Linked DNA regions of Homo sapiens. The protein of the gene in region 1 interacts with the protein of each later gene in a biochemical or structural test. Each region holds a gene or a part of one and is shown in the gene's direction. Other genes may lie near its edges. The genes, in order: RNF4, EIF2A, UBE2D4, UBE2B, RBBP8, TOP2A and HNF4A.

Evidence for each region.
Region 2: of the proteins of RNF4 (region 1) and EIF2A, one has a biochemical effect on the other in vitro, tested with the Homo sapiens proteins (one study listed by BioGRID).
Region 3: the proteins of RNF4 (region 1) and UBE2D4 form a complex in vitro, tested with the Homo sapiens proteins (one study listed by BioGRID).
Region 4: the proteins of RNF4 (region 1) and UBE2B form a complex in vitro, tested with the Homo sapiens proteins (one study listed by BioGRID).
Region 5: of the proteins of RNF4 (region 1) and RBBP8, one has a biochemical effect on the other in vitro, tested with the Homo sapiens proteins (one study listed by BioGRID).
Region 6: of the proteins of RNF4 (region 1) and TOP2A, one has a biochemical effect on the other in vitro, tested with the Homo sapiens proteins (one study listed by BioGRID).
Region 7: of the proteins of RNF4 (region 1) and HNF4A, one has a biochemical effect on the other in vitro, tested with the Homo sapiens proteins (one study listed by BioGRID).

The regions. Positions count from the first base shown.
Region 1 is NC_000004.12:2,475,606-2,479,105, forward strand, and holds part of RNF4 (E3 ubiquitin-protein ligase RNF4), read left to right. Parts: intron 1-3,500. UniProt on the Homo sapiens protein: E3 ubiquitin-protein ligase which binds polysumoylated chains covalently attached to proteins and mediates 'Lys-6'-, 'Lys-11'-, 'Lys-48'- and 'Lys-63'-linked polyubiquitination of those substrates and their subsequent targeting to the proteasome for degradation.
Region 2 is NC_000003.12:150,574,287-150,577,786, forward strand, and holds part of EIF2A (eukaryotic translation initiation factor 2A), read left to right. Parts: intron 1-1,362; coding exon 1,363-1,476; intron 1,477-3,500. UniProt on the Homo sapiens protein: Functions in the early steps of protein synthesis of a small number of specific mRNAs. Acts by directing the binding of methionyl-tRNAi to 40S ribosomal subunits.
Region 3 is NC_000007.14:43,946,936-43,950,435, forward strand, and holds part of UBE2D4 (ubiquitin-conjugating enzyme E2 D4), read left to right. Parts: intron 1-1,696; coding exon 1,697-1,802; intron 1,803-3,500. UniProt on the Homo sapiens protein: Accepts ubiquitin from the E1 complex and catalyzes its covalent attachment to other proteins. In vitro able to promote polyubiquitination using all 7 ubiquitin Lys residues, but may prefer 'Lys-11' and 'Lys-48'-linked polyubiquitination.
Region 4 is NC_000005.10:134,374,569-134,378,068, forward strand, and holds part of UBE2B (ubiquitin-conjugating enzyme E2 B), read left to right. Parts: intron 1-2,100; coding exon 2,101-2,126; intron 2,127-3,500. UniProt on the Homo sapiens protein: E2 ubiquitin-conjugating enzyme that accepts ubiquitin from the ubiquitin-activating enzyme E1 and transfers it to a E3 ubiquitin-protein ligase. In vitro catalyzes 'Lys-11'-, as well as 'Lys-48'- and 'Lys-63'-linked polyubiquitination.
Region 5 is NC_000018.10:22,981,828-22,985,327, forward strand, and holds part of RBBP8 (DNA endonuclease RBBP8), read left to right. Parts: intron 1-390; coding exon 391-566; intron 567-3,058; coding exon 3,059-3,163; intron 3,164-3,500. UniProt on the Homo sapiens protein: Endonuclease that cooperates with the MRE11-RAD50-NBN (MRN) complex in DNA-end resection, the first step of double-strand break (DSB) repair through the homologous recombination (HR) pathway.
Region 6 is NC_000017.11:40,400,897-40,404,396, reverse strand, and holds part of TOP2A (DNA topoisomerase 2-alpha), read left to right. Parts: coding exon 1-20; intron 21-123; coding exon 124-245; intron 246-1,342; coding exon 1,343-1,491; intron 1,492-3,315; coding exon 3,316-3,500. UniProt on the Homo sapiens protein: Key decatenating enzyme that alters DNA topology by binding to two double-stranded DNA molecules, generating a double-stranded break in one of the strands, passing the intact strand through the broken strand, and religating the broken strand.
Region 7 is NC_000020.11:44,400,699-44,404,198, forward strand, and holds part of HNF4A (hepatocyte nuclear factor 4-alpha), read left to right. Parts: exon of another isoform or gene 1-674; coding exon of another isoform or gene 675-789; intron 790-1,855; coding exon of another isoform or gene 1,856-1,946; intron 1,947-3,500. UniProt on the Homo sapiens protein: Transcriptional regulator which controls the expression of hepatic genes during the transition of endodermal cells to hepatic progenitor cells, facilitating the recruitment of RNA pol II to the promoters of target genes. Activates the transcription of CYP2C38.

The DNA.
Region 1 (3,500 bases):
GGGATTACAGGCGTGAGCCACCTCGCCTGGCCCACACCTGGCTAATTTTTAACAAAGTTTTGTAGACTGGGTCTTGCCCTTTTGTCCAGGCTGGTCTCAGACTCCAGACTCATGATTTAATATCTATGGTTGAGTGATTCCCTACTTCTTACTCTCTTACAGAACCACTCTATAAGATAGTTGTTGTAGTTAGCCCCATTTTACTCTTCCTGAGGCACTGGGAGATCAGGGTCACTTGCCCAAGGTCACACAATTAGTAAGCAGAGCTCGAAACTTCACCCCACCCCTGACTCCTACCTTTGTTCCTTTTGTTAGGCTTTGTTATGTCATCTGCTTTTTTTGTGTGGTGGGAAAGCACATGGCCAATGTTTCTAGAAACTTCAAATAGTAAAAACAAAATAGTATCTTTATTTTTGCTTTCACCGCAGAGGAGTCTGATAATTATCCTCAAGAAAATTTATTGATTCTCAGTAACTGTATTGTATTCCTCAAAGTTATTTTTCCTAAGTTTTCTCCTCTCACCAGCTAAGGGAAGTTGTCCTAGGGCCTAGGCATTTCCCTGTCTGCCACACCTCACCTCTTACTTTAGCCAAACTACTGCTAAATTCTGCTCCTAAATATGGCAGCATTCTGTGTTACCTGCACTAAAATTTGCTTCCCTTGTAAGTACCTTCTTGATGTCTTCCAGTGTTGGTTCTCGCCTCCTACTCTTGCAAGTTGAAAAGTTGAAAATGCCTCAGGTAGAAATGTTCTCTCCTATTCTCCCATCATGATCATCTGTGTTTTTTTGTTTTTTGTTTGTTTTTTGAGACGGAGTCTTGCTCTGTCACCCAGGCTGGAGTACAGTGGCACGATCTCAGCACTGCAACCTCTGCCTCCCGGGTTCAAGCAATTCTCCTGCCTCAGCCTCCTAAGGACCTGGGATTACAGGCATGTGCCACCACGGCTGGCTAATTTTTTGTATCTTTACTAGAGATGGGGTTTCACCATGTTGGCCAGCCTGTCTCGAACTCCTGACCTTGTGATCCACCCACCTCGGCCTCCCAAAGTGCTGGGATTACAGGTGTGAGCCACCACGTCCAGCCCTTTTCTTTCTTTCTTTTTTTTTTTTTTTTAATTTAAGAGAAGGTTGTCTTCCTATGTTTCCCGGGCAGGAGTGCAGTGGCTATTTGCAGGTGCAATTATATAGCACAGTACAGCCTAAAACTTTTTTTTTTTTTTAAAGACAGAATCTTGTTCTTTCTCAACTCACTTCAACCTCCACCTCCTGGGTTCAAGTGATTCACCTGTCTCAGCCTCCCGAGTAGCTGGGATTACAGGTGGGCAGCACCACGTCTAGCTCATTTTTGTATTTTTATTAGAGACAGGGTTTCACTATGTTGGCCAGCCTGGTCTTGAACTCCTGACTTCAGGTGATCTGCCCGCCTCAGCCTCCCAAAGTGCTGGGATTATAAGCATGAGCCACCATGCCCTGCCTACAGCCTCAAACTTTAAGCTAAATTAATCCTCTTGCCTCAGTGTCCCAAGTAAATGGGAATACAGGTGCTGATATGGTTTGGCTGTGTCCCCACCCAAATCTCACATTGAATTCCTACATGTTGTGGGAGGGACCCAGTGGGAGGCAATTGAATCTTGGGGGCAGGTCTTTCCCATGCTGTTCTCATGATGGTGAATAAGTCTCAAGAGATCTGATGCTTTAGGTCGGGGGCGGTGGCTGATGCCTGTAATCCCAGCACTTTGGGAGGCCAAGGCGGGCGGATCACGAGGTTAGGAGTTCAAGATGAGTGTGGCCAACATAGTGAAACCCTGTCTCTACTAAAAATACAAAAATTAGCTGGACATGGTGGTACATGCCTGTAGTTCCAGCTACTTGGGAGGCTGAGGCAGGAGAATTGCTTGAACCCAGGAGGTGGAGATTACAGTGAGCCGAGATCATGCCACTGCACTCCAGCTTGGACAACAGAGTAGACTTAATCTAAAAAAACAAAAGAGATCTGATGCTTTTATAAGGGGGAGTTTCCCTACACAAGCTCTCTTTGCCTGCTGCCATCTATGTAAGGCATGACTTACTTGCTTCTCCTTGCCTTCCGCCATGATTGTGAAGCCTCCCCGGCCATTTGGAACTGGCTTTTGTAAACTTCTTGCTTTTGTAAATTGCCCAGTCTCAGGTATGTCTTTATTAGCATCGTGAAAACATACTGGTACAGTAAGTTGGTACCAGTAGAGTGCGATGCTGCTGAAAAGATACCTGAAAATTTGGAAACAGCTTTGCAACTGGGTAGCAGGCAGGGATTGGAACAGTTTGGAGGGCTCAGAAGAAGACAGGAAAATGTGGGAAAGTTTGGAACTCGCTAGAGACTTGTTGAATGGCTTTGACCAAAATGTTGATAAGGATATGGACAATGAAATCCAGGCTGAGATGGTCTCAGATGGAGATGAGGAACTTGTTGGGAACTGGAGCAAGGGTCACTCCTGTTATGTTTCAGCAAAGAGACTAGCCGCATTTTGCCCCTGCCCTAGAGATTTGTGGAACTTTGAACTTGAGAAAGATGATTTAGGGTATCTGGCAGAATAAATTTCTAAGCAGCAAAGCATTCAAGAGATGACTTGGGTACAGTTAAAGGCATTCAGTTTTATAAGGGAAGCAGAGCATAAAAGTTTGGAAAATTTGCAGCCTCCTGTCAATGTGCTAGAAAATAAAATTCCATTTTCTGAGGGGAAATTAAAGCCAGCTGCAGAGATTTGCATAAGTAACAGGGAGCCAAACGTTAATCCCCAAGACAGTGGGGGGAAATGTCTCCAGGGCATGTCACAGGCCTTCATGGCAGCCCCTCCCATCATAGGCCCAGATGCCCAGGAGGAAAATATGGTTTCCTGGGCTGGGCCCAGGGTTCCCCTGCTGTGTGCAGCCTAGGGGCCTGGTGCCCTGCGTTCCAGCCGTCTCAGCTGTGGCCAAAAGGGGCCAACATAGAGTAGAACTCAGGCTGTGGTTTCAGAAGGTGCAGGCCCCAAACCTTGGCAGCTTCCACATGGTGTTGAGCCTGCGAGTGCGCAGAAGTCAACAATGAGGGTTTGGGAACCTCCACTAGATTTCAGAGGATGCATGGAAACACCTGGATGCCCAGGCAGAAGTTTGCTGCAGGGGCGGGACACTCATGGAGAACCTCCGCTAGGGCAGTGTGGAAGGGAAATGTGGGGTTGGAGCCCCCAAGCAGAGTCCCTACTGGAGCACCACCTGGTAGAGCTGTGGGAAGAGGGCCACTGTCCTCCACACCCCAGAATGATAGATCCACTGACAGCTTGCCCTGTACACCTGGAAAAGCTGCAGACACTCAACACCACCCAGTGAAAACAGCCGGGAGGGAGGCTGTACTCTGCAAAGCCACAGGGGTGGAGCTGCCTAAGGCCATGGGAACTCACCTCTTGGATCAGCGTGACCTGGATGTGAGACATGGAGTCAAAGGAGATCATTTTGGAGCTTTGAGATTTGGACTGCTCTG
Region 2 (3,500 bases), on another chromosome or scaffold:
ATGATTTATAGTAGTTGTGTGGATTTTTTTCGTCTCAAGTGAAAGGCTCTCAGTGGCTACATGATGCTCATAAGCGTGGAAGAGACTTGTAACTTATCTTTTCTTCTTGTATCATTTTTCATCAAAGTTCTGAGCAGAAACTTTTCGGCCAAAGTAAACTACTACAGAAGAGCCCACTATTGAAAGAATTTTCATATTATGTATAAAACAAATGTTCAGCAAATATTGTATAACTTAAGTAGCATTTTATGCAACATGGATAAAAATGAAATGAAAGAGCCTTGCACTCCAAATTTGTCTGCTGTTCTACAAATGTGGGTTCTCATAATATTCAGTTTGTTTCAAGTAGAATATGAACATACCCAGAACTTTGATGACCTGAAATAGTTAATGCATTTGCTAAGATAAGGTCACTTTATGGTTTCTTATTTATTACTCTGCATCTTAAGTGTTTGAGCTCTGCTCATTTCCATATAGAACTTATAAGTAAAATGCGGATCTGAGACCTAGTACTCAAGAAACTTCATGGAGAGCTGGTACTTTTGATGTGCTGAGTTATGGTACAGTCTAAGAGACAGTTAACATTAAAATAATAGCAATATAGATAGAAATCAGTAAGTACCTGAATCTGATAGAGAGTTGTAGTGCCATCACTTATACTGTATGTTGTCTAAAACTGTTCTGGAGATACATTGAATCTATAATTCACCATCTTTTCTATTGTGGAATATAGTTGTTACATGGTTACATGAATATCTGATGTTGGAAATGATTGTCTTCATTGTGTAATCTGACAAGCCATGTAATTTTTTTTTGGTCTCTTCATATGTCAATCCCAGATTTGTAATTATCTAGTTAATTACTCCTTTCTATTTCATTTATTTTCTTATAATCTATTCTTGTTTTTTCATTTGCTTTTATTTTTAATCTTCTAATTTCTGATTTTACAAGTAAAGATCTAGCAAGTAATTCTTTGTGTGAAGAAAACAAGCGAGGCAACTGGGTTTCTGTTGACAATAGTTAGAACCAAAAAGGCCTCAGAAGAAGCTGTTGTTGGTATCTAGTTTTCATAAGAATCATGTGTCTGTAGTAGTGCTAAGAAAAATTCTGTTTGAACAAAACTAAAGTGAATTTTGCCAGCTCTGATATGATTGAAAGATATAGGAACTAATAGGAAGACCCTAATTAAATCCATCCTGACAGTTGGAGTGTGCCACTACCAATGAGTTTCAAAATAATCTTTGCTAATGATCTTAAATTTGATAAAATAAGTTTATCCTATATTAGCAGAAGTGTATAATTTGTTGTTGTAGGTGTTTACAACATGGACTCCATTTCAAAATTATTTTACATTTTCCATAGCATGAAGAGGAACCACCTCAGAATATGAAACCACAATCAGGAAACGATAAGCCATTATCAAAAACAGCTCTTAAAAATCAAAGGAAGCATGAAGCTAAGAAAGCTGCAAAGCAGGTATTTGGGGCACTAATCTCATAACAAAACAAATAGTCAGTTATGGCCGGGCGCAGTGGCTCACGCCCGTAATCCCAGCACTTTGGGAGGCTGAGGCGAGTGGATCACTTGAGGTTAGAAGTTCAAGACCAGACTGGCCAACGTGGTGAAACCCTGTCTCTACTAAAAATTCAAAAATTAGTTGGCCATGGCTTATAATCTCAGCTACTCAGGAGGCTGAGGCAGGAGAATTACTTGAACCTGGGAGGTGGAGGTTGCAGTGAGCCATGATCGCATCACTGCACTCTAGCCTTCCAGCCTGTGCGACAGAGAGAGACTCCATCTCCAAAAAAAAAGGCAGTTAAGTTAGCTTTAAGCCTTAAAGTTTAAAGAATTGTGGTCCTAAATACTTGACTGTGACCAGGTGTGGTGGCTCATGCCTGTAACCCAGCACTTTGGGAGGCCAACGTGGGAGAATTGCTTGAGCCCAGTTCGAGACCAGCCTGGGCAACATAGTGAGACCCCCATCTCTATGAAAAATTTTTTGCTGGGCACAATGGCGTGTACCCCGTAGTCCCAGCTGCTTGGGAAGCTGAGATGGTAGGATCACTTGAGCTTGGGAGGTTGAGGCTGCAGTGAGCTGTGATTGTACCACTTCAGCCTGAGTAACAGAGCAAGACCATGACTCGAAAAAAAAAGAAAAAAAGCACAAAAAACCTTGGCTCTTACGTTATAAAATGTAGTTGGAGTTAGACTTAAATAGGCAGAATATCTTTCTTTTGTCTTTGCCTATGAATTTCTAAGTAATCCTGTCTATATGATGGGTGACAAAAGAAACTGGACTTGACATCATAACCTGAGACACTAATGGTATTATGTAAGCATGTTACTTGCTGTAGACCCTTTTGGTGGCACTTGTGTGAAGTGGTGTAGTTTGCTTTCCTTGAAGCATGTATTTACTAAGAGAAGCTGGAAATTACATGACTAGAAAGCCATTTGGGCACTCAGTATTATAGTACTATATGAAATTATTTAACTGGGAATCGAAATACCAGAAGTACCCAAATAATGGGATATTTCCAAAATAGTTTCTTACTTGATTACGTAGTTGAAAAGCCACACCAGTGTAAATAATTGACAAATTGTGATATTGTATAGCTCATGGTGATAATGTGATTGGCTGGGCTGGGGATGTCTGGTTAGTGAAGTTATGGTGATCACATTTTTGCAATTCAGGTAGAGTACATGTCTCAATCCATTCAGGCTGCTACCTTATACTAGGTAATTCATAAACAAATTTATTGCTCACAGTTCTAGAAGCTGGGGCGCTGGCAGATTTGGTATCTGGTGAGAACCCGTTCATCATAGATGGCACCTTCTTTCTGTGTGTCCTCCCATGGTGGAAGGGGCAGTGGAGCTCTCTTTGGTCTCTTTTATAAAGCTACTAATCTCATTCTTGAGTGTGGAATCCTCATGACTTAATCATTTTCCAAATGCCCCACCTTTTAATACTATTACATTGGGTATTAGGTCCCAAACTATGAATTTGAGGGAAACACCAATATGTCAGACTGTAGCAGTGGGGTAGGGTTTTTGGATGTTTTGTTTTTGTTTCTTTTGAGACACTCTGTCTCACTCTGTTATCTAGGCTGGAGTGCAGAGGCATGATCACGGCTCACTGCAACCCCAGACCCTGAGCTCAACTAATCCTGCCTCAGCTTCCCAAGTAACTAGGACTGTACATGTACACCACCATTCCCAACTAATTTTTTTATTTTTGTAAAGATAGGTTATCGCTATGTTTTTCAAGCAGGAAATGGGAGTAGGTTTTTTTGGTTTGGTTTTGGCTTGGTTTTTTTTTTTGAGACCGAGTTTTGCCATGTTGCCCAGGCTAGTCGCAAACTCCTGAGCTCAAGCAGTCTTTCCACCTCAGCCTCCCAAAGTGCTTGGATTACAGGCGTGAGCCACTGTGCCCATCCTAGAAAGGGCAGATTTTTAACAGCTGGTTGCTATATCAGTATAGTCTTGCTGATAATTCTTGAATT
Region 3 (3,500 bases), on another chromosome or scaffold:
TTGTTACATAGGTATACATGTGCCATGTTGGTTTGCTGCACCCATCAACTCATCATTTACATTACGTATTTCTCCTAATGCTATCCCTGCCTCAGCCCCCACCCCCCGACAGGCCCTGGTATGTGATGTTCCCCGCCCTGTGTCCCTGTGTTCTCATTGTTCAATTCCCATCTATGAGTGAGAACATGCAGTGTTTGGTTTTCTTTTTTTTTTTTTGAGACAGAGTTTCGCTCTTGTTGCCCAGGATGGAGTGCAATGGCGTGATCTCGGCTCACCGCAACATCCACCTCCCAGGTTCAAGCAATTCTCCTGCCTCAGCCTCCCGAGTAGCTGGGATTACAGGCCTGCACCACCATGCCCGGCTAATTTTGTATTTTTAATAGAGATGGGGTTTCTCCATGTTGAGGCTGGTCTCGAACTGCTGACCTCAGGTGATCCGCCTGTCTCAGCCTCCCAAAGTGCTGGGATTACAGGTGTGAGCCACCATGCCTGGCCCAGTGTTTGGTTTTCTGTCCTTGTGATAGTTTGCTGAGAATGATGGTTTCCAGTTTCATCCATGTCTCTGCAAAGGATGTGAACTTATCCTTTTTTATGGCTGCATAGTATTCCATGGTGTATATATGCCACATTTTCTTAATCCAATGTATCATTGATGGACATTTGGGTTGGTTCCAAGTCTTTGCTATTGTGAATAGTGCCGCAATAAACATACATGTGCATGTGTCTTTATAGTAGCATGATTTATAATCCTTTGGGTATGTACCCAGTAATGGGATCACTACTGAATCAAATGGCATTTCTAGTACTAGAGGAATACCTTGAGGAATCACCACACTGTCTTCCACAATGGTTGAACTAATTTACACTCCCACCACCAGTGTAAAAGCATTCCTATTTCTCCACATCCTCTCCAGCATCTGTTGTTTCCTGATTTTTAATGATCGCCATTCTAACTGCTGTGAGATAGTATCTCATTGTGGTTTTGATTTGCATTTCTCTGATGACCAGTGATGATGAGCATTTTTTATGTGTCTGTTGGCTGCATAAATGTCTTCTTTTGAGAAGTGTCTGTTCATATCCTTTGCCCACTTTTTGATAGGGTTGTTTGATTTTTTCTTACAAATATGTTTAAGTTCTTTGTAGATTCTGGATATTAGCCCTTTGTCAGATGGGTAGATTGCAAAATTTTTCTCCCATTCTGTCGGTTGCCTGTTCACTCTGATGATAGTTTCTTTTGCTGTGCAGAAGCTCTTTAGTTTAGTTAGATCCCATTTGTCTATTTTGGCTTTCGTTGCCATTGCTTTTGGTGTTTTAGTCATGAAGTCTTTGGGCCTGAGCTTTTCTGCTGATACATCAACAAAACATCACTGCTTTTTGCATAAAACTTCCTGGGCTTTTGAGTCCTTTCCACCACCCTTGTTATTCCTCAGAGCATACTGCTTTCAGGGAGATGGTATCAATCCCCCTATGTTCAGAATGAGAATCCAGCAGGGAATGGGTCAGGGAACTTCTGGGTGATCACTCACTCCCATATCCCATTAGAGTTTGGGAGTGGGGGTCTGGCTTAGCCTGCACTGTGGGGCCAGGTATGCAGCACACTCCAGGTACTGCCCAGCAGCAGCTGCTTCTGCTTTACTTGGTTCATTTCCCACACGTCCCTGTGGTTTGTCTGATTGGGGATCTCTTGTCTTTGCAGGTTGCTTTCACAACCAAAATTTATCACCCTAATATCAACAGCAATGGCAGCATCTGCCTTGATATCCTGCGGTCTCAGTGGTCTCCAGCGTTGACTGTGTCAAAAGGTAGAGATGCTGATGGCATGCTCTGTGTGCTCTTTTACACATGTTTTTACCCCAGCACTGACTGAGTGGAAATGGAAGCTCAGAGAAAGAAGTCACCTTTCCCAGGTCACATAGCCCTGTCCACTGCTGTGCCCTTAAGTGGATATCCTTACACGCCTACGAGGCAGCACCAGCAGAACTTTGTGCCCCGCTCCCTGGCGCTTCTCAGCAGTCAATTGCCCTGGTGTGCTCAAGACTGTCACATGGGTGCAAGAAGAAAATACTGATTCTACTTATATTTTTTTATCCAAAAATAAGAAAGGCAAATATTACATTACCTTCTCTGTTCCCTCATTTATTCATCTAATAAGCACAAAACGGACTGTGAGTCAGCCCTGAAGGAAGATACAGGGCATGCCTCCGGGGGCCTCGAAGTTGGTGGAGAAATCCTCCCTTCCCAAAATAAATGATGTTGAGCACATGTCTTTGGTTGAAGTTGAAGAAACCAGTCTAAACTGAGCTTAGAAATGCAGATATTCCTTCTGAATTAAGATGGGCTGTGCATGGGCTATGTATGCACGAGAGACCTGAATGTAGATGGTGCAGTATCCTGGCAGGTGGAGCGTGGGAGGATGGTGAAAAATCAACCCAAGAGAAACAGAGCCTGGCCTAAATTTTAAATTTTTCTGTAGAGGAGACAGGGTCTCACTTTGTTGCCCAGGCCATTCTCAAACTCCTGGCCTCAAGCAGTCCTCCCATTGTGGCCTCCCAAAGCACTGGGATTATAGGCGTGAGCCACTGTGCCCAGCCAAGTATCTTAAGAAAGGCAAACCTGCCCCTGTCATTTGTAGCTTTATGTGTGGGGACCTGTGGTCAGAACTTTGATGGACTCACTGAATCCAGTTTGTTTGGAATCATATGGTGAGTCGAAAGCAAAGCCAGGAATGAAAGTGTGCATTTCTCTCTGGGACCCCAAGAATCCAGGCACCACAATTCCTTCTGCTCCTCACCACAGCCCTAGTGGGTGATTCCCTTCCCCTAGGGTTGCTGAGAGCCACATTGAGTGCACATCTTAGAGACGGTGCTGGCACAGAGGAGGATGCATCTGCTTTGCAGTTAGAAGGACCTGGTTCAGAATTTCTTTATTTTTTTTTTGAGATCGAGTTTTGCTCTTGTTGCCCAGGGTGGAGTGCAATGGCGCGATCTCGGCTCACTGCAACCTCCACCTCCCAGGTTCAAGAGATTCTCCTGCCTCAGCCTCCTGAGTAGCTGGGATTACAAGCATGCACCACTATGCCTGGCTAATTTTGTATTTTTTTAGTAGAGACAGGGTTTCTCCATGTTGGTCAGGCTGGTCTTGAACTCCCGACCTCAGGTGATCTGCCTGCCTCGGCCTCCCAAAGTGCTGGGATTACAGGCAAGAGCCACCGCACCTGGTCCAGAATCTCATTTTAATCCATTTATTGGGTGTTCCAAGTCTGTGACCTTGGACAAGTTACTTGAATGCTCTGAATTCTTGTTTCCTTAACAGTAAACAGGACTCCTAGGACTAAATGCCAGAGGTTCATGATGTAGGGTACAGACAAGGATGGGAGGGCAGTTGGAGACTAAGATGGGGTGCTTCAGTGGAGAAGGGGAATGAGAACCAGGATGCACCCAGGAGGGAAGTATCCTAGCACAGCATGCCTCAGGCCACACAGTGAGGACCACCTCGGCTGA
Region 4 (3,500 bases), on another chromosome or scaffold:
TAAGGACTAAAACTGCAAGATAAATTAGAAAAAAAAAATATTTCAATTAGAGTTTTGGCCCAGCACAGTAGTAGCTCAACGCCTGGGAGGATCGCTGGAGCCCAGGAGTTCACCAGCCTGGGCGATATAGTGAGACAGTGAGACTCTGTCCCCTCCCCACCAAAAAAAGTTTTGGCCCAGTCTGGGCAACATAGTGAGCCCTTGTCTCTACAAAAAGTATAAAACTAGCTGAGCATGGTGGTGCATACCTGTGGTCCCAGCTACTTGGAAGGCTGAGGCAGGAGGATCACTTGAGCCCAGAAGTTTGAGGCTGCAGTGTGCCATGATTGTGCCACTGCCCTCCAACATGGGCAGCCAGCAGAGCCAAGATCCTGTATCAAAAAAAAAAAGGAAAAAGTTTCAGCAGTTATATAAAGTTTATTTGCTCTTTGATGTTATTACATATGGTTTTATAATCTCTTGGGGTTTTACTTTTAAAATACTATTCAAAACTAAATGGAATGGAATAATAAAGGAGAAACAATAAGTTACTTTATATAAAACATATCACGCAAATGCTCTCATTCTGTTGGAGCTGTTAAAAGGTTTGGAACCAAAAATATTAAGAACTTCCACTGTGGCAAGAATTTAAGCGAAAATGATTCACAGCCCAGTGTGAAATAACAGAATGCAGCCATTTGAGAAGCAGTTGTAAATTTTACCTACTATGTATATTGCGTATATGCTTTTTAATTTAAAATTTCCTTATGCTTTTTCTTTGGTTTTTCTAGACTTGATCTATTTTTTCTTTCATTCCTTTGAAACTAGAGTTTTGCATTAAAAAGTAAAAGGAGTATGTTGATAAACAGAATTCTGACACTACAGAATCAGCTACAAGAGTCTACATTTAAAGACTAGTGGAAAATGAGTGAAGTTCATCCTCATAAAGTACTTCTGAATTTGAGTTGAATACATGGCACCTTCAGGATATTATCCTGCTGCTTTGAGATCCTGAATATGCCTTGCAAGTAATAATTAAACTTTATGCTCCATCCTGGCTAACACGGTGAAACCCCGTCTCTACTGAAAATACAAAAAAAAATTAGCCGGGCGAGGTGGCGGGCGCCTGTAGTCCCAGCTACTCGGGAGGCTGAGGCAGGAGAATGGCGTGAACCCCAGGGGGCGGAGGCTGCAGTGAGCCGAGATTGCGCCACTGCACTCCAGCCTGGGCGACAGCGAGACTCCGTCTCAAAAAAAAAAAAAAAAAAAAAAAAAAAAACTTTATGCTGCTGCTTAGGAAAGATGAAATTGGGATGTGGGGACAAGGATCTGAGCAAACAAATCTGGCTTTTTGGTGACAACTATGCTTAGCCTATTTGAACAAGAGTTATGGCTCCATTGGAAAGCAGGACACTTGGGTTTAGCATCATAACTAGAGTATTGCTTTACATCATATTGCTGTAAAATGAAAAGATGTCTTTTCCTCTTAAGAATATACATATGGGCCAGGTGCGGTGGCTCACGCCTCTAAATCCCAGCACTTTGGGAGGCTGCGATGAGTGGATCACCTGAGGTCAGGAGTTCGAAACCAGCCTGGCCAATATGGTGAAACCCCGTTTCTACTAAAAATACAAAAATTAGCCAGGCATCTGTAATCCCACCTACTCGGGAGGTTGAGGTAGGAGAATCACTTGAATCCAGGAGAAGGAGGTTGCAGTGAGCTGAGATCATGCCATTGCACTCCAGCCTGGGGGACAAGAGCAAAACTCCGTCTCAAAAAAAAAAAAAAAAAAAAAAAAAAATATATATATATATATACACATATGTACAAAATGACTGGTCAGTATTAATGAAAGTTTTTTTGTGCTAAAATTATGGGCAAGTTTTTTTGTTTGGTTTGGTAAAACCACCCTAAAAAGAAAGCTTAGAATGAAAGTTAATACTTTATGCCTGGGTCTATGAAAATCCAGGGCTAAGGTGTTACTAAACTCTATCTTAAAACTCCACAAATCATCAGAATGAGTCCCTCTTTTTCTGTTGAAGTTTATCCTTTCCATTCTTGAAAATCAAGAAAAAGCAGAATGAGAAACTTCTTTTAATCAGAAATCTTCTTGTTTTCAGACCAGAAGGGACACCTTTTGAAGATGGTAAGTCATACTCATTATGTTTTCTATAGTGTTATGAGGTTACTTTTTAGTAGAAAATTGTAACACCAACATATCTACTTGAAGCCATTTTCTATGGTTAATAGGCCAAGTTAAAAGTAAAGCTATGGAAAATTTATACTTCATAAGGGACTTCTTCCCACAGCAGCTTGGTCACCTCCATTGGTAACCAATATTAAAGGTTACTTTAATATTTTCCTGTATAACTGTAAGCCTGGATGGCAGTGTTTATGTTGAGAATAGTTTAAATTTAGGTGGCCTTAAAGATATCTCTGAGGTGAACACCAGAAGAGTAAATCATGCTTTTTTACTTTGTTATCTTTGATATTGACAGGGTGTTGAGCTGAAATTTTTCATAAACATACATAGCTGCCAGTAGTTTCAAGTACTACTAGCATTTAACACCCATAAGTAGTTATCATTTTGCATAATCTTTGGCATCTCAAGTTGGGTATTTTCATCAGGGGCTAGGAAAATGGGAAACTAGTTCTAATACCGAATTTATAATTGAACTTATCAAACTGATTTTAACCAGGAACTTAGACTTTTCCCAATTGTAGTGTTGGATTTTAAGAAATTATTAAACATCTTTGTTATCATTAACAAAATGACTTCAGAATTAATCCATCAAAAATATTTATCCGAGAATACTGACTGCAGCAGTTTGTAAGGACGTAACCTGAATGTCCAGTAGGAGAAATGGTTAAGCAAATTATGATGTATCTGGATTCTGGAATATGTACCTGTTAAAGAATAAGGTAGATTTGGACATACTGTCTTAAGAGGACAAAAAAACTGCACGATAATGTTTGTCGTAGCATCACATTTTTAGCAAATACATATATGCATGTGTGTCTATGTTAAAGGGTTATATATCAAACTGTTACCAGTGATTATCTGTGGGGGGGGTAAGGAGTTGAAGGAGGTACTTAAGGACGTTACCTTTTTTCTCTACATCAAGGGTTCTCAAGTGTGTGATCCATAAACCCCTTGGGGTCTTGGAGACCCTCTCGGGGGACCCATACGATCAAATCTCATCATACTAAGACTGTTGACCTTTGCATTGATGGTACAAAACCAATGGTGGCTATAACTACACCTAAGTAGTTTCGTATCTTAGAACAAATCAAGGCATTAGACAGTGGCACCAAACCATACTAATAGTGATTATATTCTTTGCATTTTAAAAGATGCCAGTTGGCCAGGGGCAGTAGCTCACACCTGTATAGCCAGCACTTTGGGAGGCTTAGGCAGGTGGATCATGGATCACTTGAGCCCAGGAGTTTGAGACCAGCCTGGGGGAGCCCTTCTCTACAAAAAATTAGCCAGGCATGGTGGTACATGCCTTTAGTCCCA
Region 5 (3,500 bases), on another chromosome or scaffold:
TTCTTTCCTCTTGCTTTCTACATTATGTGCACATTGAGCTCATGGCTCTCGTTCATGTAATTCCAGCTTTCCCTTCTCCAACATAAGTACACAGTACTGCATGCCTTTCCTCAGACTGTGGGTTCTCTCCTGATCTTGTCTGCAATTTGAAATACTTTTAATTTCACCTGAAGTGCTATTGACTATACTTTCTACTTCACTTCTCACATAGTATTTCCCACTGGGTACTGTAATCATTCGTGTACTTATCTACTTAGGTTTGGAACATTAGATGCAAGGGATTACATCCCTTAGAGCTTCATGTTTGTGTTCTACTGTAACTCCATGCCATGTAGTAAATGTTTTAATACTCATTGAATTGATTTTCTTTCCATTGTCATTCTTCTCTAGGAATGATCAACAGCATCAAGCAGCTGAGCTTGAATGTGAGGAAGACGTTATTCCAGATTCACCGATAACAGCCTTCTCATTTTCTGGCGTTAACCGGCTACGAAGAAAGGAGAACCCCCATGTCCGATACATAGAACAAACACATACTAAATTGGAGCACTCTGTGTGTGCAAATGGTAAGAGTTGGAGTTGTATTTTAGTTCTCTGGTTTTGTAAACCAGTGTTCATCTACTAGTTTTTATGTTATTCAATCTAGTGATAAGAAGATAGTCACTATTCTGGTATCCCATGGTACAACTATGAGTTTAACTTCTATTTGTAAAGTGACTGAGAAGGCGTTTTCTGCCCGTGTTATGTATAGATACGTGTCATCTATATGACATGTAAATATACCATATTTTATAAATGTAGTAAATAGTTTCTTTTTTCTTTTTATTTTAAAAATATTCCTATGTGTATATATCCAAGTGGGATAGAAGGAAAAAGGAAAGGAACTTAATGTTAATTTCTACCTCCTGTGTACCAGGTATTATGCTGAGTGATTTGCATGTATTATTGCTATGTTTTAATTCTCGTAACAGGCTTGTGAGATAACTATCAGCTCTTTTGTTTTATAGATGAGGAAAGATATGTTTAGAAAGGTTAACTCACTCAAGGTCAGCTATTATGTAGATGAGTCAAAATTCAAATACAGATCTTCTTAGCTCTGAACTTTCCTACTCTCCAGGTCTTGCCACATGGGTACTCCTGCCATTGGAGCTGTCTGTAACTGGCTATTTTTATTTGTTGTAATTTGTAGGAGTTAGTGGTAATCAAGAAATGGTGTTATAATATGTACACTTTGTGGCTTTTCAGTGACATGTTTCTAATTCCAGCCTAGTTTATCATTTCTGCTAAATGCTTTAAAACTGTCTTTTCACATAGTCCCAAAATTTGTTATGTGCCATGATACAAGTATTACTTTTAGTATTAATCTAAAGCAAACAGTAAAGACTTTAATTTTTAACCTAAACTATTTGCAACAAGGAAAGCATGGGGGACGGGGGATATATATGTACTACTATATTTGTATAATACAAATAAATTGTTGACAGTAAATATGCCTTTAAACAAATAAGCAGATCTTATTCTTAGATGTTGGAACATTGACAGTTTTCCCCCACTTTATAAGCGTTTGTATCACCATCTAGTGGAAAACAAAAGAACTGTTAAAAATCCTACACTTAAATAGGAGCTAAGTTAAAATGTAAAATCATAGATCTAAAATGAATATCCGTTGACCTTTTAGTTTGCTATCAGACAGGACATGAATCATTAAAGATAATCACTGCATAATTTACATCAGGTTTAAATTCACAAATAAGAATATCTAGAAAACAATTCCATATTAGGAAAGTCTTTTGTAACCAATATAAATGCTTCTGGTTTATTTCTTCTTTGTATGAAAGCAGCATGTAACTATTTAGAAATTTAATTCACTTGCTTTAACCTTGTTCTGATCATTTTTTACTTGGAATCTGAAATTTGGTTTTAAGATGTACGATAACCTTGAGCCATACAAATGATTTTAAAATAATTTTAAGGCCGGGCACGGTGGCTCACACCTGTAATCCCAGCACTTTGGGAGGCCAAGGTGGGTGGATCACGAGGTCAGGAGATCGAGACCATCCTGGCTAACATGGTGAAACCCTGTATGTACTAAAAATATAAAAAATTAGCTGGGCGTGGTGGCACACGCGTGCAGTCCCAGCTACTCGAGAGGCTGAAGCAGGAGACTTGCTTGAACCCTGGAGGTGGAGGTTGCAGTGAGCTGAGATCATGCCACTGCACTCCAGCCTGGGCAACAGAGCAAGACTCCATCTCAAAAATAATAATAATAATAATAATTTTAAATGCTTTAATGACTAATTAGTCCTGTTCTCTAACTTCCCTTGCTTGCTTATTTTAAGGTTTATAATGCTTTTTAATATTACTCTCAAGTTATAAATAGTAAAACCATTTCACTTTACCTTGTCCTTATTTTGGTTTTCTTTGAACTAAATCTTTAAATATTGGAGTGATTTCTGATAAAGCATGCTTCAGAGTTTCCTTCCCGAAAATAGAAACTCTAAAACAAAGATCATGGAGATAAATGATATAGTATACATTAGATTGATTGATCATTTGTTTATTGATTGATTATTTGAGATAGGGTCTCACTCTGTCATCCAGGGTGGAGTACTGTGGTGTGATCTGTAGCTTACTACAGCCTGGAACTTTTAGGCTCAAGAGATCCTCCTGCCTCAGCCTCCCAAGGTGCTCAGATTACAGTCATGAGCCACTGTGCCCAGCCCAGTATACCTTTTTAAATTAACCTGCTGATTTGTAACAAATATAAAAAGAGAAGTAACACTAAAATGTTACTACTCTAGGCAATTTGGGTTAGAAGAAGCTGTCTGTTCTAGTCCCCTCTCTCCCAATGTCTTAACTTAAACAGCTTTGTTTCTTAGTGAAATTAAAGGAGCTTACTTCTTAGAATATGATAATTATGTCAATAAAACAGTACTTATATTGGATTTAAATACAGATAATACATAAAAATTTTAAATATGAATAAATAAAAATAATTTGATAATGCTTTTCATCATCATTGTTTATTGTGTAATCTCTTATTTTTTTCTCCCCTTAGAAATGAGAAAAGTTTCCAAGTCTTCAACTCATCCACAACATAATCCTAATGAAAATGAAATTCTAGTAGCTGACACTTATGACCAAAGTCAATCTCCAATGGCCAGTAAGCAAGATACTGAGATTACTTTACAAGTTTAAAATTGTGGTTATTGGTGGGTAACAGTGACCCACAGTCTAACTTAGACAATATTTTAAAGGTATTTTCCATATAATTTTGTTTATATTACTAGTTTACTATCTTTTTCATATTGGAAAGTAATGTTATCCTATTCATATAAATATCCCTAATCATATTAATATAAATTACTAATAATTTTAAGTAAAGAAGGCTTTACTGTGATTTACTTATTTGTTCAACAAATATTGAAGCATCTGTTGTATACCAGGCACTGAATAAAACAAAGCCCTTGTCCTCATGGAGCTTATGATCTAGTTGAGGG
Region 6 (3,500 bases), on another chromosome or scaffold:
TATCCCTTCTATGGTGGATGGTGAGTTCCAATTTGTTAGTCTGTTTTCATTGTAAGATGGAAATCAAATTCCAAAATTGGTTAAATTGAGGATACTTACGTTTGCTCTTATTTCATTTTAAAGGTTTGAAACCAGGTCAGAGAAAGGTTTTGTTTACTTGCTTCAAACGGAATGACAAGCGAGAAGTAAAGGTTGCCCAATTAGCTGGATCAGTGGCTGAAATGTCTTCTTATCATCATGGTGAGGTAAACACACAATCCATGTTTCCAGAAAGCATTATATCAGAAATCCCTGCAGAGTCATTCTCAAAACAGATTTGGTGAAAGTATAAGCTCATATATTCATAGTAAAGAACAAGTTGGTAAAACCTGTGAAAGAATAAAACTGCTTGCCCTTTGATTTCTGAAAGTAATATTCCTGCAGGGATATTCATAAGTCTGCAAAGGTCTACATTAAAAAATGCTTAGTATGTTTATTATAACTTTGTGATGTCAAAATTTAGACCTCCACTGATTTGAAAATTGTTATAATAAATTGTGACACATGTATGCATGGAATCAGTGCTGTAACTTCAGTAAAACTGTGTGCACTGACACTGAGGAATATCCAGGGTCTATTCTCAGGTGAGGAAAAAAAGAGACAGAACAATAACTAAAAATGTCTACAAGGATATGTTCCAAATTGTTCACTTTAGTTACCCCTGAGAACTGGAAAGGGCAACTTTCACTTTTTATATGTGTCTGAATTGTTTGACTTTACACCAATGTTTTGTGATTACTTTTTGCATTAATTATGTAAAACAGTTTTAAAGAACTAGATTGCCTACAGGTTTCTAGAATTTTAAATATAATGGTTGTCTTGTTGCTTTCAATCAAAATATAGTAGGGATACAATAAATTTTCACCCAACGAACATTTGTTGAATGCCTACCATGTACCAGGTATACAAAAATAAATAAAAATATGTTCCTTATCCCCAAGATATAATAACAATTTAGCCAGAGGGCCAATACACACACAGCTATAGAATAAAGTGATACATGCTAGAATAGAAATGAACACAGCATTGTAACACAAAGGAGGAAATATTTCATTTTGCTGAGGATAAGGAGAAGAACTATGCCTTCAAAGTTGAGTGGGATTTAATAGAAATTGTTGGACGGCAGCCCTAAACTTGGAGCCAGAAGTTGTAGGTTCAAGTACTATTTCTGCCATCTATTAATCTGAGGAAAGTCACTAAACAACTAGACCTCACAAAATGTTACAGGATTATAGTGAGGTTAAGTCATAATGTATTTGTATTAGTAAAAGCCTCAGCTTAATGAATCTTTTTTTCCCCACAGATGTCACTAATGATGACCATTATCAATTTGGCTCAGAATTTTGTGGGTAGCAATAATCTAAACCTCTTGCAGCCCATTGGTCAGTTTGGTACCAGGCTACATGGTGGCAAGGATTCTGCTAGTCCACGATACATCTTTACAATGCTCAGGTAGGTATGCTTTCACTTTCTAGTGACTTGCCATTTCCAGTTTTGAAACAATGTGAGATTTAGTTCACCAAAAATACAAAAACTCAGTTAATCAGAAGATACTGGCATCTAGTGGCAGAGGCCAGGGGTGAGGCTTATACAGGAAAGCCCCCCCATAACAATTATCCAGTGCAACATGTCAATTATGCTAAGGTTGAGAAATCCTGATGTAGAGCTTGGGACTGAGTAAAGGAGACTTTGATTCTTCCTAAATATCACAATTGAAATTTTACTCCTTTACAAGCCTATGGAAAGTATATTATGAATGGTCAATTTTCAGCTGTCATCCCAGTCACCCTTTCAGTGGCATTCAAACAGTTACTAATTGCTCCATCCTTCTTGAAACTCTTTATTTGGCCTCTATGACTGTAGACTCTTCTGGTTCTCTTCTACCTTATTAGCTTTCTCTGCTGGGTCCTTCTCACCTTCCCAACCTCTAAATACTGGCCCATTCCAGGGCTCCTTCATCAGATCTCTTTCCAATGCCTACACTCAATTCCCAAATGATCTCCCATTCATCCGTTCTATACCTTTAAATCTCCAGTCTTGGTCTCTCCCCTGAACTCCCAACTTTTATGTCTGACTGCCCTCTTAACATTTCCCACTTGGATATCTAGTTAAGTATCTCAAACATAAGTCTAAAACCAAATCCTTAGTTTTCCTGTCTCAGTAAATGGAATGCCATGCCATCCTTCTAATTGCTCAGGCTAAAAACCTTGTCACCCTTGACTCCTTTGCTTGATACTTAACATCCAGTTCCTCAGCCAATCCTATAGGATCTGCATTGGAAAAATACTAAGCCACCCCCATCTCATCTAAACTATTGTAACATATCATCTTTTCTTAAAGCAGCCAATTATTTTTTAAAAAATAAGTCACTCTGATTCAGAACCTTCAACTGCTCAGAGTAAAATCTAAAGACCTATTTTAGCTAACCAGACATTATGTGATCCGTGTCCCCACCTTCCATGTCTTTTGATTCCTTCTCATACCATCTCCTCTCCAGCCACACTGTCCTTGGCCTATACTCAAATATACCGAGCACATTTCCTCTTCAGGGCCTTTTACTTACTGGTTCCTTTGCCTGCAACACTCTTTCTCTAGATATCCACATGGTTCAGTCCCTCAGTTTGTTTTTTGTTGTTTTTTTTTCTTTTGAGATGGAGTTTTGCTCTTTTTGCCCAGGCTGGAGTGCAGTGGCGCAATTTCGGCTCATTGCAACCTCTGCCTCCTGGGTTCAAGTGATTCTCCTGCCTCAGCCTCCCGTGTTGCTGGGATTACAGGTACACGCCACCATGCTCAGCTAATTTTATATTTTTAGTAGAGATGAGGTTTCACCATGTTGGCCAGGTTGGTCTTGAACTCCTGACCTCAGGTGATCTGCCTCCCTCAGCCTCCCAAAGTGCTGGGATTACAGGCGCGAGTTACTGCACCTGGCGCCCTCAGTGTCTTTTCTCTGCTCAAATGTTTTCCTATCAGAAACGGCTTAACTTTCCTTAGCACCTCTTCAGTCACTTTCCCACTTTTTCTTCTCTTGTTTATCCCACCACCTAACAAAATATGTGTTAATTGCAAACTTCTACTGGACTGTGAGCTCCTTGAGGATTGAGACTTTATGTCCATGTGCGTGACACATAGCAAGTGCTCAATAAATATTGTTAAATGTATATTAGTCAGCAAGTAAAACCAAGATAATTTTCATGTATAATACATGTCCTTTCCATAAAAGTTAAGTGTGAAATTCAGTATTTTTGTAAAATAACATTCTTTGTTTCTTTTCTTTAGCTCTTTGGCTCGATTGTTATTTCCACCAAAAGATGATCACACGTTGAAGTTTTTATATGATGACAACCAGCGTGTTGAGCCTGAATGGTACATTCCTATTATTCCCATGGTGCTGATAAATGGTGCTGAAGGAATCGGTACTGGGTGGTCCTGCAAAATCCCCAACTTTGATGTGCGTGAAATTG
Region 7 (3,500 bases), on another chromosome or scaffold:
GGCCCTCCCAAACTTCCAGTCCATTCTGCTCCCAGGGGAACCGGGAAACTGCGGGGGAACTGGAAGGGAGCTCCCAGAACAAGGATCCAGAAGATTGGCATCTGGGGCCTGGGATTTAGGTTTCTAAATCGTGGGCCATGGGGCAGCCTTATCTCTGCAAAAGCATTGAGGGTAGAAGTCAATGATTTGGGAAGTTATTGAATTAGGGGATCTCGGAGGTAGGCTGTCAGTGCCTGATAGTATCAGTTAGAATGCCTGACTTGGGGTGACAATGGCTTGGAGGGGTGGGTGAGTCAAGGGTCAAATGAGTGCCCGTGAGTCATGATGCCTGCCTTGTACAATTGATAACTGAACATCGGTGAGTTAGGGCCCCAGCAGTTGTAATTAGCACCCCGGGTGTCAGCCAGAAACCAACAAACAGCCAAATCCCTGCAGCCCCGCCCAGCCTATCCACCGGCGGGGGACCGATTAACCATTAACCCCCACCCCTCCCCGGCAGAGCCTCCACCCCTTCACAGAGGCTAGGCCAAGACTCCCAGCAGATCTTCCCAGAGGACGGTTTGAAAGGAAGGCAGAGAGGGCACTGGGAGGAGGCAGTGGGAGGGCGGAGGGCGGGGGCCTTCGGGGTGGGCGCCCAGGGTAGGGCAGGTGGCCGCGGCGTGGAGGCAGGGAGAATGCGACTCTCCAAAACCCTCGTCGACATGGACATGGCCGACTACAGTGCTGCACTGGACCCAGCCTACACCACCCTGGAATTTGAGAATGTGCAGGTGTTGACGATGGGCAATGGTAGGTGGGGGCAGATGTGCCCAGGTGTGCCAGTGGGGGCAGGTGTGCCTGGGTCCAGGAGCAGATCTTTGGCACTCAACTTTGGGGTGGGAGGAGAATGATACAAAATGGTAGGTTGGTCCTACAGGCCAGCACAGGTGTTGCCAAGTGAAGCCCATGTGCCCAGGCACAGTGATCACAGGCATTCTGGGTGAAGGGAGGCCTGCAAGGGCCAATTTCCAGCAAAAGTCGATCCCGGCTATTCCTCCCAGGCCCTTCCAGTCCTCACTGCCTCACAGTGGCTCTGCTTGGCGCTTGGCACAGTGACGTGATGGTGAGCTCCCCCTTGGTGCCCAGCTCCAGCGATTCAGCCCAGCACGGCCCCTTCGTGAACCCCTTGGGCCTAGGTTCAGAGAGACGGCAAGGGATGTTGTATCCCTGGAGATGGTGGTTGGAGACATAACCGCATTTCTCGGTGTCTTTGGGACTTTCCTAGGGAAATGAAATTGGCACTTAGGGAAAATGGAGCTCTCAGGGAAGTTTTGCTAACTACGAAGCCAACTCAGCACTGTGTGTGTTGTGTGTGCGTTCGTGTGTGATAGTGAGTTTCCATGTAGGTTGTATGGGTGGGGTGATGCCTTCAGGAACCCATTTGCATATGTGTGTTCATTTGTCTCTGTGTGTGAGTTCTGGGTCTATTTTCCTTTGTATTCATTGAGTGGGTCTGTGTTTGTGTCTTAGGAGTTGCCCGTGTTGATCTTGCTTATGTATGTAAGTGTGTATGTGTGTGTACTTGTGTCTGTGGATGTTTGTACATGTGTGCTGTGTGTGCGGGTCATAGAGCACATGCGTTTGTGCATGCGGACCTGTTGGAGTGCCCTGTTCTTCCTGCATCTTTATCCTGTATGGGCGTTTTGTCGTGTGCCCATATTTGTACCTGCTGTGTATATATGCAGTTCCCTGTGCTGCGGGCGGGGGTCAGCGGTCTCTGGTGTGCACGACTGCACAGACCCAAATGCAGGACTCTGTTGTTGCCACTCACCAAGTGAGATTCATATCAGCAACATGTCCGTTTGTCTCTGAGCAGATTTTGTTGCCGCTGCGTCTCGCCAGATTGAGGCATCCCCTCCGACATCACTGGAGCATATCTGGAGGGGTGGACAGTTCTCCACAGGGAGGTAGGGGAAAAGAGGAGGCCCGGAAACCCCTCCTGGAGGGAAGAGCCCCATCGGTCCCAGGCCAGCCTCAGAGGAGAGGGGGCAGGCAGCTGGCTGAGGTCAGCCTGCCACCCTGCTTCCTTCTGTGTCTTGGAGCCACTCAGCCAGTATGAGGCTGCAGCTCCAGCTGAGGTCTGGAATCTTGTGGTCAGCTCAGCTAGGGTGAGGAGGCAGCTGCTGGGCACTGCTTGTTGTCAGCTCAGCAGGTGCTCACCTGCCCCTGCCGTCCAGTCACGTGTGACCTTGGGCATGTCACCTCCCCTATCCTGGCTTCTGTATCTTCTACAAAACAGGCTTCATTCCCCCAGGCCTGCTGGCTGGACGGCTTTTAGGCCTGTCTGAGGACCACGCCAGGAGCGCAAGGCAAAAACACACCAGAGATAGCAAACAAGCTGCTGCTGCACTAGGTGGAGTGTTGTGTGGCCCCACGAGGACCACTGCCCTGCCCTGGGCTGCTCCCCGCCCCCATCACTTTTTCCAAGCCCAGGAACTGTGTGCTCCTGAGGCAGAGGCCAAGCCCCTGAACTGGGAGTCCCAAAGACAAGACCACCTCCAGCTCTGGAACCAGAAAGATCTGGGCTCAAATCCGGCATAGATCCTTCCAACCTGTGTGAATGTGGCAAGGCAATTTCCTCTCTGAGCCTCAGTTTCCTCACCTATAAAATGGGAATAAATAATAGTGTCTGTCTCCCAGGGCTGGCCAGAGGATAAATAAGATGAGGTGCCTGGGTGCTTAGCCCTGGTAAAGGGCCTGGCCCCACCATGGGTCATCTCAAGGGCTCTGAGCATCTGTAAGCAGGGTCCCCACATTCCTCACTGGAGTTTGAAGTGGTCTGAATTGGGGTTATGTGAAGTTGTCCTCTGAAGTGTTTTGAGTACATCCTGGGCTGGTGTCTGAAAGGCTCCAAGGATATTTCTCCCCCGTCCTCTCCCCACCCCAATGGAGCAGCAGCCCTGGGTGGCTCCTTGTTCATTAGAGGCCCAGCAGACACCTCAACATGTGTGGCACTGGCTGGAGTAGCCCAGCAAGCCTGGACCATAAACCCATGGCTCTGCTTCACGGGAAGCAGTGCGATGACACCAGGAAGCCACTTTTCCTCTCTAAGCCTCAGTGTCCTCATCTGTGGAATAGAGGTGCTCGGCTGACCTCAGAGGGGAGATGATAGAGCTGACAGCCCCCAGCCCATCCTGCCTCAGAGGTGGGAGCTACTTCCCCAGCCTCCTGCTGAATGGCCAGGAGCTGTGGGGGTCAGCTCTCCCCGGGGGTCGGGGGAGGAGAGGCCGAGGGAGAAAGGGCACCCACGTGGCTTAACAATTATCCCCATCTCCAGGAATAATTCACCAAGTGGAGGGGGCTGCACTCCTGGGGACACCTGGGAGTCTGCGATGGCAGAAATGAGATGCGGCAGTGTCTGCTTGTGCAAGGAGCCTGGAAGTCCTCTGCTCCGAGAGTTTTCCTATGTGGAAAAGTTTTTATTTCATGAACACTGATATAGTGCTTACTATGTGCCAAGC